2 separate regions of the Homo sapiens genome follow, and region 2 is linked to region 1. Evidence: fine-mapped expression QTL. A gene starts in region 1. The other region holds a variant in brackets. All regions are shown on one strand. Distances are between the middles of the regions.

What was found. PIP is the estimated chance that this variant, and not a neighbour inherited with it, causes the effect.
Region 2: its variant is the best candidate, but not a certain one, in a credible set for the expression of RTL6 in nasal epithelium (TOPMed, PIP 0.85).

Annotation. Positions count from the first base shown.
Region 1 is chr22:44,495,934-44,500,317 of GRCh38, forward strand. It overlaps RTL6 (retrotransposon Gag like 6), which reads right to left and starts at 2,300. Exons shown (of 2, transcript NM_032287.3): 1 at 2,111-2,300; 2 at 1-1,878. The coding sequence starts at 1,623. The coding sequence ends at 904. RefSeq lists enhancers at 1-193, 194-971 and silencers at 2,231-2,360, 2,451-2,510.
Region 2 is chr22:44,530,616-44,534,999 of GRCh38, forward strand. It overlaps LOC105373059 (a long non-coding RNA gene), which reads right to left. Exons shown (of 3, transcript XR_938300.2): 3 at 4,106-4,384. Among named protein-coding and RNA genes, the nearest start is that of RTL6, 35 kb to the left of the region's middle. The variant G/A (reference allele first, on the strand shown) is at 2,238.

The DNA.
Region 1 (4,384 bases):
GCCCATGGAGATCCTGGGCAGCAAAGGGAGTCGCTGGTATCCACCCTTAGCCTGCTATGACCCTCAGGCGTGGGTGTGTAGGAACCTGCAGCCTGATAGACCTGCCCAATGGCTGAGAGTCCACCACGACCTTATTTAGCAGGCAAGTTCCAGATTCCCCAAGCCTCTGGCTCCATCAGAACACCAGCAGCTGAAGTCAGGCATTAACAGAGGTGCAACATTGGTCCTTCCCAGTGAGAGCAGTGGGGCCTCCCAGACTGCATATTCATGTGCAGAGTGGAACCTGGCCCCCAGACATGGCAGAACTACGCTCCTTGCAGCAACCACTCGACCACTACAGCACAGATGAGGCCCTGCCCGCTGCACCGGGCCCTGGCAGGGCTGGGAGGCATCTTGGGCAGGAAGCCAGACCCCCTCTCCAGGTACACCCATCAAGCCACCAGCCTGGCCAAACGGGCATCTTTCTGTCCAGAGCTCATCAATAGGAACTGGGCAACCAGGTGGGGAGCCGCCAGGGGAGCTTGGAGAGGGCAGAGTAGGAGCCTCCATGAACCAAGTCAGGCTGGAAGGGGTCAGCCCTCGTGGTCCGTCAGCGTGCGGCGGAGTCCCTGTGCCTAAGTAGCAGAGCGGTAGTCATTGAAACAGGCCGGGATGCCAGCAAGAGGGAGGCGAGCATGCAGTGAGCGATAGGTACAAAGCTAGCACGTAAGAGGAAGCACGGCAAGGTGGGCAACCAGGGCGCCAGGAAGGACGGAAGGAAGATCTCCTCGGGGAACACGTCTGGAGAGGCAAGAAGGGAGGTCTTCAAACAGGGGCAAAGCTGTCGTATGGGCATTTCTTCTACACAGCAAAGAGCGTATGCTACCTGGGTGGCTGCAGACGCTACCAAGTGCTGGCGGATTCTTAAAGATTCCGTGCTCGGGCAGGCAGGGCTGGCGCTGGACTAGTCCCGTTGGAAGCTGGATGCACTGGGCAAGGCCCCGTGCCCGCAGAGGCCAGCTGGCGGCAGAGCATCTGCCTCTCTCGCACAGCCCTATTAGAGGCAGAAGTCTTCCTGATTTGGGCGCGCCGCGCATGCCGGAGCGGAGACTTGTAGGTTCTCCGCAACTCTGCCAGGAACCCCTGATAGTTGTTGCGCAAGGGGCTGTCAGGTTGCATGTGGGGGATAGCCCACTTCTCCGCCTCCCCAGTCAGTCGAGACACAAGGAAGGCCACACGCTCGGCCTCACCCGGGAAGCGGGAGGCCTGGAAGATCATGAATCTGTCCATCTGCATCAGGAACCCCGCCAACCGGCCTGGGTCCCCGGAAAAGGGCTCGGGCAGAGAGGTTGGAGGTGTGGTCATGGGTCGAGTCCCGTTTGAAGTAATTGAGGAGATGGGCGGGGTGATCTGCAGAGCCCCCGGGATCCGCGCCCTGGTGCGTAACAAGGTCAGCTCTGCCATCACGCTCTCCAGCATGTTGGTGAGATTGGCCTTCTCCGCCCGCAGGGTGGAAGCCTCCCGCCTCAGCGCCGAGTTGGTGAGGCGCAGGGAGGTCAGGGTGTCAATAACGTCATCCATCTGGGCATTCGGAGACGCTGCCAAGGCTGGGCTTTCAGCTTTGGACGTCTGCGGCTGCACCATGCTGGCCAGAGGTCAGCCACACGCTGAGATCCGCGGGTGGACCAAGAGGGTGTGGTGACCAGGTGGGCCCCTGTAGAAATGGGGGCAGTGTGGGGTGCACGACGGCAGGGCGCTGCGAGACCCCCAAGCCGAGGGCCCGAGAGAGGGGCACGCGGTGCCAGGCCCTAGGGACTTCGGCCCCGGTCCCACGCGGCTCCTTTACTGCAGACTTCGCGGACTACGGAGCCAGACGGGTGGCTGGACCTGCTCTGGGCCCTGGAGGATTAAGAAAAGATGTTTTCAAGGTTTCAGTTGCGACTAGCGGGCAGGAGGGTGAGGGGCGGCGTGGAGGGCCCGCGCGTGGGTGGCGAGGCTGCACAAAGCCCCGCGGCGCCCGCCCCGCGCCCGCCCGGGGGAGAACAAAGGGGGCTGCTCCTTGGCGGCCGCGGGCCTGGGGGCCACCACAGTGGCGGGGCCCGGCCGGGCAGGGGGCCGGGGGCACGCGTACCTGGGGTCTCGCGGTTCCTCCGCGGCTCTGTCCGCCGCCGGCCGTGACCAAGATGGCCCGCGCGGGGGACGCGGCCAGGCCGATGAATCACCGCGCGGACCGCCGAGAACTGCTTCCCGGTCAGCGCAGCCAAGCGACGGCGCTGGCGATGGCGGCGGGCGGCCTCCGGCAGGTGCAGGGACCGGGCCAGGCCGGGGCCGGGGCAGGGGCGGGGCCGGGGTCGCGGCAGAGGGCGGGTCACCGCGCGGCCTTTGTGCGGGCGGGGCCGGCGCGGTGGCGGTGGCGGGCGGGCCTTAGGCTGGCCCCGCTGGTTGCCATGGATACCGACCGCTCCCGCGCGTGCGGAGACGACCGCTGCCCCGCCCCCGGAAGTGATGCACAAAGTCCCACCCCCCCCCACCCCCCAACTCGGGCTGCTGCCAATCGGGGAAGACTGTAGTTGCTGCGGCGTCTTCATCAGGGCGGGTACCTGGTGTTCTCCCAGTCATTCCTCCCAAGAGGGCTTGCAAGGCTCTTTCTGTGGTTGTCATTGGGTTTATTTTTTTGATGATTTACTGTTCTTCTTATTTTTTTTTTTTTTTGAGACGGAGTCTCGCTCTGTCGCCTAGGCTGGAGTGCAGTGGCGCGATCCTGAGTCACTGCAACCTCCGCCTCCCGGGTTCAAGCGATTCTTCTGCCTCAGCCACCCAAGTAACTGGGATTACAGGCGCGTGCTACCATGCCCGGCTAATTTTTGTATTTTTAGTAGAGACGGGGTTTCACCTTGTTGGCCTGGCCAGTCTCCAACTCCTGACCTCAGGGCATCCGCCTGCCTTGGCCTCCCAAAGTTCTGGGATTACAGGCGTGAGCCACTGCATCAGGCCCTTATTGTGATTTGAATATAAATTTAATGTAACAAATCTTGATGTAAGAGAAGTAAAAAAAACTTTATACTACTCAGACTCCCTCCACCTAAAGATAGCAAATAGTAATACATATATATGTAACGTAGAGATAGTAATATTTCTGTACTTCCATCCAGTCATTTTTCTATGATATGTTCTACAAAATATTTTTTACCTTATGAATATTTTGTAACCATAACAGCACATTGAATTTTGAGCATTTTCCTATTAAAGATAGTTCAGAAGCATGATTTTCAGTTATTGCCTGTGGTCCATGGAACTCCTGTACCGCAAAGTATTTAGCCATGCCCTTTTTGATAGATCCTTATCTTGTTTACCATGCTAAAGTTTTATAAACTACACTTGTATATAAATCCCCACCCTTTTCTCTGCTGGGTTCCCCAGAGTAAATACCAAGGAGTGAAGATACCTGGCTGATATGGTTTGGCTGTGTCTCCACCCAAATCTCATCTTGAGTCGTAACTCCCACAATTCCCACATCGTGGGAGGAACCTGGTGGAAGGTGATCGAATTATGTGGGCAGGTCTTTTCTGCACTCTTCTTGTGATAGTGAGTGAGTCTCAAGAGATCTGATGGTTTTAAAAAGGGAAGTTTCCGGCCGGGCACAATGGCTCACGTCTGTACTCCCAGCACTTTGGGAGGCCAAGGCGGGTGGATCACGAGGTCAGGAGATCGAGACCATCCTGGCTAACATGGTGAAACCCCGTCTCTACTAAAAATACAAAAAATTAGCCAGGCGTGGTGGTGGGCGCCTGTAGTCCCAGCTACTTGGGAGGCTGAGCCAGGAGAATGGCGTGAACCCAGGAGGCGGAGCTTGCAGTGAGCAGACATTGCACCACTGTACTCCAGCCTGGGCAACAGAGCAAAAGTCCATCTCAAAAAAAAATTAAAAAAAAAAAAAAGGGAAGTTTCCCTGCACAAGTTCTCTCTTTGCCTGCCGCCATCCATGTAAGACCTGACTTGCTCCTCCGTGCCTTTCACCTTCTGCCGTCATTGTGAGCCTCCCCACCACACAGAACTGTAAGTCCAATAAACCTCTTTCTTTTGTAAATTGCCCAGTCTCAGGTATGTCTTTATCAGCAGCGTGAAAACAGACTAATACACTGGCCAAAGGGTAAGAACTGTTTGATTCCGGGTCTGGATTCCCAGCTTGACCTAGGTGATCCTTCTGCATGGTCAGTTTCAAGCTGGCATGGCTGGAGAGAAAAGATACTGAGAAATAAAAATAAAAATTTAAGCCCCCCCCCCCCAACCAACTGAACAGACCCCCTCTTGGCCAGGGGACCCCAGAGAAACCTGGGAAGCCGAGTTCCTGGCCATGATGGGATGGGAGGTTGGACACACTTCATTATCTGCCCCCGCTCCATAA
Region 2 (4,384 bases), 35 kb after region 1:
AGATGTCTGAGCTGACACCACTCCTTCTTCCTGGGTTTTGGGGAGAGGGGGGCAGAAACAGGTGGAACAGGCCTAAACCCAATCACAGCCCAAAATCGAGCACAGTGCTTGTCATTGGAAGCCACTGAGAGACAGGGAATGTTTGTTATGCAGCATTATTACAGCCAAAGCTGACTAATACGATGGGGGACATTTTAAAACAACTGAGCAAAAGTAGAAAAACATTGTTAAATGCTTACTGTGTTCCATGCAGGCACTTAACCAAGAGCTTTACAAATAATAACTCATGGCCGACTGTGGTGGCTCACGCCTATAATCCCAGCACTTTGGGAGGCCAAGGCGGGCAGATCACGAGGTCAGGAGATCAAGACCACCCTGGCTAACATGGTGAAACCCCGTCTCTACTAAAAATACAAAAAAATTAGCCGGGCGTGGTGGCAGGCTCCTGTAGTCCCAGCTACTCGGGAGGCTGAGGCAGGAGAATGGCGTGAACCAAGGAGGCAGAGCTTGCAGTGAGCCGAGATCGCACCATTGCACTCCAGCCTGGGTGACAGAGCGAGACTCCATCTCAACAAAAAAATAAATAAAAATAAATAAATAACTCATTTAATTCTTACAGCAACTGTATGTGGTCAGCGCAGTTTTCAAACTTATTTTACAGATAAGGAAACGGAGGCCCCAAGAAGTAAATAAGTTGCTGGGCACAGTGGCTCATGGCTGTAATCCCAGAACTTTGGGAGGCCGAGGCGGGTGGATCACCTGAGGTCAGGAGTTCGAGACCAGCCTGGCCAACATGGCGAAACCCCGTCTCTACTAAAAATACAAAAATTAGCCAGGTGTGGTGGCATGCACCTGTAATCCCAGCTACACGGGAGGCTGAGACAGGAGACTCGCTCGAACCTGGGAGGTGGAGGTTGCAGTGAGCTGAGATTGCGCTACTGCACTTCAGCCTGGGCAACAAGAACAAGATTCCGTCTCATAAAAAAAAAAAAGAGAGAGAGAGAGATAAATAAGTTGTCTCTGATGAATCACCAGTGCCTGGCAGAGCCCAGATCTGAACCTGTGCAGCTTGGCTCTGGCACCCAGATGTTTATTCACACTGGTGGCAGAGATTTGGCTCCGTAAAGCCGTTAACAACCCAGATAACGGAATGTCTGCAGCCCTTAAAAAGACACAGTCAAGCAGGTTAAATGGTCAGTCCTCAACCTTTCCTTTTGCTGAACAGCCACTGTAGATGGTGTCCCATACCCCTCTCCCCTGAGCACACCCCCTGACCAGTGCAGCACACACCACCTGTCATGTGACCACGGCCACGAGCACCCCCTCATTCCAGCTAAGCAAATGCCTCAGAGCCCCTGTACCTGATGTCGACCTTGAACTCATGATGATTTCTGAAAAAGGTCATGGACTTTCCAAAGCATCAGCATATAAAATGCTTACAAGCCTTCATGCATCCGTGGTGGCCATTATTTTAAAGGGTTTTTTGTTGTTGTTGTTGTTTTATTGAGACAGAGTCTTGCTCTGTCACCAGGCTGGAGTGCAGTGGTGTGATCTTGGCTCCTGGCAACCTCCACCTCCCAGGTTCAAGCAATTGTCCTGCCTCAGCCTCCCGAGTAGCTGGGTCCACAGGTGCACACCACCACGCCCAGCTAATTTTTGTATTTTTAGTAGAGACGGGGTTTCACCATGTTGGCCAGGATGGTCTCGATCTCTTGACCTTGTGATCCCCCTGCCTCGGCCTCCCAAAGTGCTGAGATTACAGGCGTGAGCCACTGCGCCCAGCCTATTATTTCTTGATGTAGAGAAGAAGCTGTGTGTGTGTGTTTACAGAGAGGGATAGGGATCCCAAATTTGGAAGGAAGGAAGAAAAGGAAGGAGGGAGAGAAGAGAGGGAGAAAGAGAAGGGAAGACAAGGAAAGTGAAAAGAAGCAAAATAAATATCCTCCCACACATAGCCCTGTTGGGTTGTTTTGTCTGTTCTGGTTTCACATATAAATGTCATCTTGGAATGGGTCATCTTTTCTGTCTGATGTTTTCCACTCAACACTGAGAGAGTCATCGTCGCTGCTGCCTTTGTCTGTGGCACCTGCGTTCTTGTTATTGTGAAGTATTCCATTGTGTGGCTCTCCCAAGTGCACCTCTCCACCCACTGTGATGGGCGTACGGGTGGACTTCTAGTCTGAAACGGTCAGGAACACCCCAGTGGGTGTCTCTGCACCTGCGGTGAGCAGCTGTGT[G/A]CATTTCCGCCCTCTGCAAACATCCTTCGGAGCAGGATGGCCGGGTCACTGCGGGGCTCAGGTTCAGCTTAGTAGATACTGCCAAGTGGTTTTCAAAATGGCTGAGCCGGTTTCCAATCCTGCCAGCATTTATTTCATCTATGGCACAGAGGCTATGATTATTGCAGGGAGGAGCAGAGACTAGAAGGGGCGTGGAGGAGGTTTTTTGTTTGTTTTGGATTGTTCGGTTTTGGTGTTGGTTTTGGTTTCAGAGACAGGGTCTCACTCTGTCACCCAGGCTGGAGTTCAGTGGCGTGATCTTAGCTCACTGCAGCCTCCATCTCCCAGGCTCAAGTGAACTTCCCACCTCAGCCTCCCGAGTAGCTGGGACTACAGGTGTGCGCCACCACCCCTGGCTAGTTTTTTTTGGTATTTTTTTGTAGAGACAAGGGTCTCACTTGGTTGCCCAGGCTGGTCTCGAACTCCTGGGCTCAAGCAATCCCCACTCCTCGACCTCCCAAAGTACTGGGACTACAGGCATGAGCCACCATGCCAGGAGGCAGTTTTTGAGGTGCTGATAACATTGTATCCAGATCTGGGTGCTGGATACATGGGTCTGTAACCATTGACAATTCACCCAGCTACACACTCAGAATTGGTGCACTTTTCTAGATACATATTATACTTCAATATGTTTTAGAAGAAATATGTCCATAAACGCAGATACATATACACAACTCTGCAGCAAGGGGCATGAAAAATTAAAAAATAAATAATAAATATTTTTAAAAGATACATGGCTGCATGTGGTGGCTCACGCCTGTAGTCCCAGTACTTTGGGAGGCTGCGGCTTGAGCCTAGGAGTTCCAGACCAGCCTGGACAACAAAGTGAGACCTTGTGTCTACAAAAAAAGTTTTAAAATTAGCCAGCTGCGGTGGCATGCGGGTATGGTCCCAGCTACACAGGAGGCTGAGGCAGGAGGATCGCCGTAGCCCAGGAGGTTGAGGCTACAGTGAGCTGAGATCGTGCCACTGCCCTCCAGCCTGGGTAACAGAGTGAGATCTTGTCTCAAAAAAAAAAAAAAAAGATAAACGCATGAGTCAAATGTCCCCACGTCCTCTAGTTATTGCCATCTTTCCCCTTAATACGCAAATATGTATGGGTCACCTGCTATGTGCCAGACACTGGGTGTACAGTGGTTCGCCAGACAGTGCTTGCACACACAGGGCATACATGCTAGGGGCAGGAAAAAATCATACACAAGTAGCCAGATAGGCACATCAATGATGGCGGCTGTGACGTGTGCTCTGAAACAAAAGGGGCTGCAGAGAGGAATGAAGGATCCAGCCTTCACTTAGCCAGGTCATCCAGAAAAAGCTGTCCTCGTGGGGCCAGGGGGCCCAGCCAGGAGGAAGTAGCAGGTAACAAGTATCCTGGGTACTGGGAACAAGAGGAGAAGATCTTGGGGCACCCAGGGACCAGCAAAGAAGCTGTAGGCCTGAGGGCCAAAGAGCAAGGCAGGGGAATGGCGCAAGGCAGGGTGAGGAGGCAGCTGGAGGAACAAGGAGCTGGAGTCTCATCCTAAGAGCAGTGGGAGCCACAGAGTGTTCAGGCAGGAGAGTAGCATGATCAAGTTTAGGTGCCAACCTGCACCTCCCCGTGATAACGCCACACAGGCCACCGTCTCTCCTGGAGTTTCCTGGCCTCACCCTCCAAATTCCTGGGCAGTCATACTGGCAGTCACACACCCCTCAAAGGAACACTGGTAGGAGCTGCACGAAAAGGCTGTCATCATTGTCCCTGGGAGGAAGAGTGAGGCAAATGTGCCTCTTAATATGAGGTTTGCACCCAAATTTTCTTCAAGTAATTCTTACATTATGATTACATATTACATACAAATACATGTTTATTATATACAAATGCAAATACATGTTTATTATATATTAACGTATAATTAAGTTTTTTTTAACTTGGGGCAACGAATATTTATGGTTCATTCAAAGGAGGGTTTCTTTTTTTTTTTTTTTCCTTTTGAGATGGAGTCTCGCTCTGTCACCCAGGCTGGAGTGCAGTGGCGTGATCTTGGCTCACTGCAGCCTCCGCCTCCGGGTTCAGACAATTCTCCTGCCTCAGCCTCCAGAGTAGCTGGGATTACAGGCACCCGCCA